Regions from separate parts of the Homo sapiens genome. Here region 2 is linked to region 1. The links come from fine-mapping of genetic effects on gene expression. A gene starts in region 1. The other region holds a variant in brackets. All regions are shown on one strand. Distances are from middle to middle.

The links. PIP is the estimated chance that this variant, and not a neighbour inherited with it, causes the effect.
Region 2: its variant is fine-mapped to the expression of MRPS28 in nasal epithelium (TOPMed, PIP above 0.99).

Annotation. Positions count from the first base shown.
Region 1 is chr8:80,028,502-80,031,293 of GRCh38, forward strand. It overlaps MRPS28 (mitochondrial ribosomal protein S28), which reads right to left and starts at 1,758. Exons shown (of 3, transcript NM_014018.3): 1 at 1,535-1,758. The coding sequence starts at 1,747. The region is part of intron 5 of TPD52-MRPS28 (TPD52-MRPS28 readthrough); the gene reads right to left. It also overlaps a transcript of TPD52 not described here. RefSeq lists an enhancer at 1,481-1,910.
Region 2 is chr8:79,977,657-79,980,448 of GRCh38, forward strand. The region is part of intron 6 of TPD52-MRPS28 (TPD52-MRPS28 readthrough); the gene reads right to left. The region is part of intron 2 of MRPS28 (mitochondrial ribosomal protein S28); the gene reads right to left. Among named protein-coding and RNA genes, the nearest start is that of MRPS28, 51 kb to the right of the region's middle. The variant A/G (reference allele first, on the strand shown) is at 1,705.

The DNA of each region.
Region 1 (2,792 bases):
ATCTCTAGAATTTGTGAATATGTTACCTTCCGTGGCAAAGGAGAATTAACTTTGCAGGTGGAATTAAGATTGCTAATCAGCTGATCTTAAAATAGATTATCTAGGGAGGCCAATGTAATCACAGGGATCTCAAAAGCAGAAGACGGGCGGGGGGGGCGGGGCCGGGCGGGGTCAGCCAGGCCAGGTGGCTCACATCTGTCATCTGTAATCCCAGCACTTTGGGAGGCCAACGCAGGAGGATCACTTGAACCCAGGAGTTCAAGACCAGCCTGGGCAACATGGCAAAACCCCATCTCTACAAAAAAAAACAGAAAAAACAATTAGCCCAGAGTGGTGGTGCACACCTGCGGTCCCAGCTATGAAGCAGGAGGATCACTTGAGCCCAGGGGGTTTAGCAGTGAACTGAGATCATGCCACCACACTCCAGCGTGGGTGACAGAGCGAGACCCTGTCTCAAAAAACAACAAAACAAACAAAAAAATCCAAAAAACAAAAAAGTAGAAAACAGAGGCAGAAAAGACAGGCCAGGAAGAGATTCTCCTAGAAGCTACGGAAAAGAACACAACTTCACCAACACCTTGATTTTAGACCAGTGAGATCCCGTCTGACTTCTCACAACCCTAACAACAACACATTTCCTGTGTTTTACGCCACTAAATTTGTAGTAATTTGTTACAACAGAAAATAATAAACTAATATACCAGGCTTCTTCTAGTCCTTGGATTTCAGAAAAATTTTGACATCAGTAATTGCTACTAAAATGACCCTATAACCCAGGACACTGCCAGTCTTGTGAACTGTTTGGTACTACTCCCTAGGAAGAAAAATACAGAAATTGAGAGTTTATTTGTATATAATTCAATTTCATGTCTGCTGAGTTTAATTATTAAAAACTTAGGCTTGTAATTTTATTTCTTCCATTTCATTTATCTATAAATTTATGGTATTTTACAAAAGTACTGGCTGAGACAAACGGAGATTTTACTTTACTTTTTAAAAAAAGAAGACATTTACAAAAGAGAGGTGAAGCGCTGACAAGTTAAATCACTTGCCCAAGTTCAGAAAGTGATTCATCACCCAGTCATTAAATTAACAAATGTTTATGAAGGGCCTTCTACTCCAGACAGCAAGCTCCATGCTAGAGCTACTGTTCAGAACAAGACCCAGCAGAGCCCTGCCTCTCCGTGTGAGTCCCATTCTCCTTAGCGTCCCAGGAATCGCCCTAGATCGCCTCCCCAGCAGCGCTCCCCGCTGGTTACCTTCCCACCAGCATTCAATCCCAGGAAAACAAGCGCAGTGTGGACAGACCCGGCCCAGTACGCAAATGCCACACAAAAGGACAACGAAAGGAAGAAAAACACCAAGCACAGATTCTAGGGGCCGAGGGCTGAGCCACAACGCACCGCAACTCCGGAAAACTGGGCCCCGGACCTCAGCTCCCCTTCCTAAGCCAGGCTCCGCCCCTATTCCCGACCCCGCCCACCGCGTCGTTGGCGTAATTCCCGCGACTCCCTCTCACCCGCCCGGGCTCCACCTTCTGTAGGGGCTCCACCTTCTGTAGAAGCTCCGAGTGCCGCTCCAACGCGCTCGCGAAACCGCCTGCGCGCGTCTTAGGCTCCTTGGCATTGGAACTACCACTTTCGGATCCACTCTCAGTGCCTACACCCCGAAAGGGCCTGAAGAAGAGAAACACTCGCAGAAAATGGCTCTCGGCAGCCACAGCACGGGTCCGACACAGCGCCGCCATGACTTCTTTACCTCTGACCTTTGACCTCCCCTCCGCAAGCGCGCGGGTCACGGGGCGGAGCTATGAGAGGTCCGCCCCCCGGACGCAGAGCTCTGGAGGCCAACGAGGCGTGTCTTCCTTTCATCTGGGAGTGGCGTGGGGAAGAAGAGACTTAAGCTAAAATTGGTGGGCTAAATAGTTGGAAAGGGGCCTGGTTAAGTTTTGCGTTAGAAGTGCGTTTAACTTGCAGGAATTTCGCCTTCCTGGGCATCCGTTGGACCCCATTGTACTGTAAATTCTGCTAACGCGACGCTCGTTCTCCCGCCCTGCCGTCCCCCCTACATGGCCGCCAGCACTCGAGTTTGGGGTCTTCACTCAAATATGAGGGTCTCCTTGATTACCCTATTTAGAAGTGGAAGCCCAAATGCAGACTCTCTGGCACCTGTTTTTCTTAGTACCATGTAGCACTTTCTAATATGCCACATATTAATATTAAATATTTAATAATATTTAGTGTCTACTCCCAACTTTTTAAACTTTGAAAAGAGGAACTTTGCTGTAGGGTCCCTAGCACCAGGCACAGATTAGGGCTCACCCAACATTTGCCAAACCCTGCATCCAAGTTTGTCCTTTGCCACTTCTGCAGCCAGTCCACTCACGCCACAAAAATAGTTTTTCTGAAATGTTTTGACACCTCTAGATACCTATTATCTAACTTAGGAGTTCAGAAGTTTTGGAATGTCCCTAAGTATTGCACCGCCGTAGGCCCCCACCCTCACTCTGGATTTTCTTTCCCTTTTCTCCTGCAGTGTTAATTCCCAAAATTTACCCACCCTGTTCAAAACAGCCTAACATCATTCTTAAGTGTTTATTAATTAGTTGTCCGTCTATCTTTGACCCAGCAGTTTAATATTAATCCACAGTTAGTTTTATTTTGGGGGCACACACCTTTCCAGTTCATTTGCAAGTACTTCGAGAGAAAGAATTTTTATGATCACAGACCCTATTTTAAGAATGCCTTGACTATGGGTTTTAAGCTTTTCTGATGCTCTCTAATGGTACAGAT
Region 2 (2,792 bases), 51 kb before region 1:
AAATACAAAAATTAGCCAGGTGTGGTGGTGGATGCCTACAGTTCCAACTACTTGGGGGACTGAGGTGGGAGGATTGCTTGAACCCGGGAGGCGGAGGTTGTGGTGAGCTGAGATTGCAGCACTATACTACAGCCTGGGTGACAGAGTGAGACTGTCTCAAATAATAATAATAATAATAATAATACATAAAGATATATGTATAGGAAGAAACACTTGCATAAATAGAATTTTAATGTAAAAACACCATATTTTATATTTATGATATATAAATACTTCTTTTTCCTATTTCCCTTTTTCTTACAAAAAATGCAACTAGAACTATTTGCTTGGTTAATTATCCAATTTAAAAAAATAAATATGAAAATAGAAATGTAGACAGATCACATCATAATGTAATTAGTTAAAAAGACATGCTTTGGAATTCAGATTAGGAAAGACAATATAAGAACAGTCCATCTATTTATTAGAGACTGACAGCTTATGGTTGACAATGGTGTGGCTGAATTTAAGTGAACTTAATTAAATATTACTTGATAATACTTAACAGTAAAGTGATAGGGTGAAACAAATTGCAAAGTGTGGGCTAAGGTGAACTAGGCTTATACTTAATGTTTTTTAATTCTTTTACAAAAGATTATTGCAACAAAAAGATGTTAAAATTTTTAGAAAGTGACAGTTGTATTTTTTTTTTCCCTGATAAACATGTAATCTAAGTAGTTTAAAACAACTAGGAAGATAAGAATCTGTCCGAAGTGACAGACTGATCAGGATTTCATCTTCACCATGCATTGTGGATCAGATCAGGCTTCAATACAAAACTCTACTGTGTACTAGCTCACGACTTTGCATATATTTCATACCTTCTCTAGGTCTCAGTTTCCTTGTCTAAAAACTGTGGATAATGTTTCCTAACTTAGAGCATTACTATATTTATCCTTGAAAAAAGACAGGATATAAGAGTAAGCTATGGTTATATTTTTGACAATTGAAAAGAGAATTTGGATTATGATCTTAATTTTACCCACTCTTCACTCCACCCCCATCTCTACAAAAACAAAACAAAATAAATAAATAAATACGCAGTTTCCAAGAATTGTGACATAATTTTATTTTCCAGAAAATGAAATCAGTGGATAACCACCCCTTAGGAAATGAGCATAGAACAAACTCATTTTACATGAGTTAAAATGTAGTAATCAGAATGGAAAGAGGCAAGAACATATTACTTTAATGATGTATTTTTTTTCACTATTGAAAGTTGAAAAGTGTTATCAGAAATTCTCTGAAACAAACATATCTTAGTAGTCATTTCTAATATAAAATACATTCAGTCACTAATTTTTTGTGTTGTTTTGTATCTTTAGTTGAAGACAGGAACACATAACCTATACTTTCAAAATACAGCCAGCCTAAAAAGGTAAATAAAATTTTTTATTTTGAAAAGGGAAAAATTTCAAGAAAAAAACTGTACCTATCTGTAGATGCTGGATAATGTTCATTCAAATCTTTATAATACGGGAGCCTTTATTCTTTGAGAGGCAGAACTGGAGAATTAGGACTTTGGAGGAAGAGACATCTGAGTTAGAATTCCAGCTTTGCCACTTAATAGTGGTGGGAGCTCAGGCACAGCAGCAGAACCCACTGGCTAGGTGACACAAGAGTTATATTCCCAGTCTCCTTCTCACCTGAAGCAGCCACAATGAA[A/G]AAGTTAAACACTGATTTTCAGAGCCTTCCCTGCAGTTAGGGAGAAGCTAGATATGTTGTATAGGTCTGACCAATTAAATGAAAACTGAAGTCTGGCAGCTTTTGTTTTCCTGGTAAAAGGGACAAAAAAATAAAAAATAAATTTTAAAAGAAATTTTTTTACTTATTTATTTCTTCTTGTGAGACAGGGTCTTACTCTGTCACCCAGGCTGAAGTGCAGTGGCACAAACACAGCTCACTCCAGCTGCAACCTTCCGGGCTCAAGAAATCCTCCTGCCTCAGCCTCCCAAAATGCTGGGATTACAGGTGTGAGCCACTGCACTCATCCCAGGTCTGCTTTTTAACTACCCTTATGAAAACTACCTGCCCTCCCCAATCTCTTCCTTCCCATTCTCTTCCTCCCTTAAACACAGACATGTGGTCTGTAGAATCAGCAGCCTTACTGTACCATGCATGACTCAAGAAGCCCCAAGCCTCATGTTGATGTTAAAGCATAAAGCATTGTCAAGCTGCTAAAACAACCCCAGTAGCCACTAACATTCAGGATTCTCACGCAAAAAAAAAAAAAAAAAAAAAAAAAAAAGTCTCTATCTTTTTAAGCCACAAGTAGACAAGTTTTCTGCTATTTGCAATTGACACAAGTCTAAATGATTTGGAAAGTCACAAATTCTGAGAATCACCTTCCTCATCTATTAAATAAGGGTGATGCTAGTAAGACGTATGTAAAGCATAGTATCTGTCTGACACATAGAAAAGGTTCAATAATGCCAGCTGTTGTGATAATGATGACAACTTTAATTCTCACACCAACCAGTACTTTGATAGCACTTTGGGGGTAAGTACTATCTTCAACCACTTTAAAGACAAGAAAATTAAGGCTCCAAAGTTAAGCAACTTGCCTAAGATCACACAATTAGTTAGGAGTAGAGCCAGGATTCAAATCCAGAAATCTTTCCAAGGCCATGATCTTAACTAGTATTATGCTTAGAAAAGTGACTGAGTACAATTAAGACTTAACAGCTAATAAATGTTGGCTATAATGATTATGACAACATAGCCAACTATGAAGACAAGAACAGGCAGAAAAT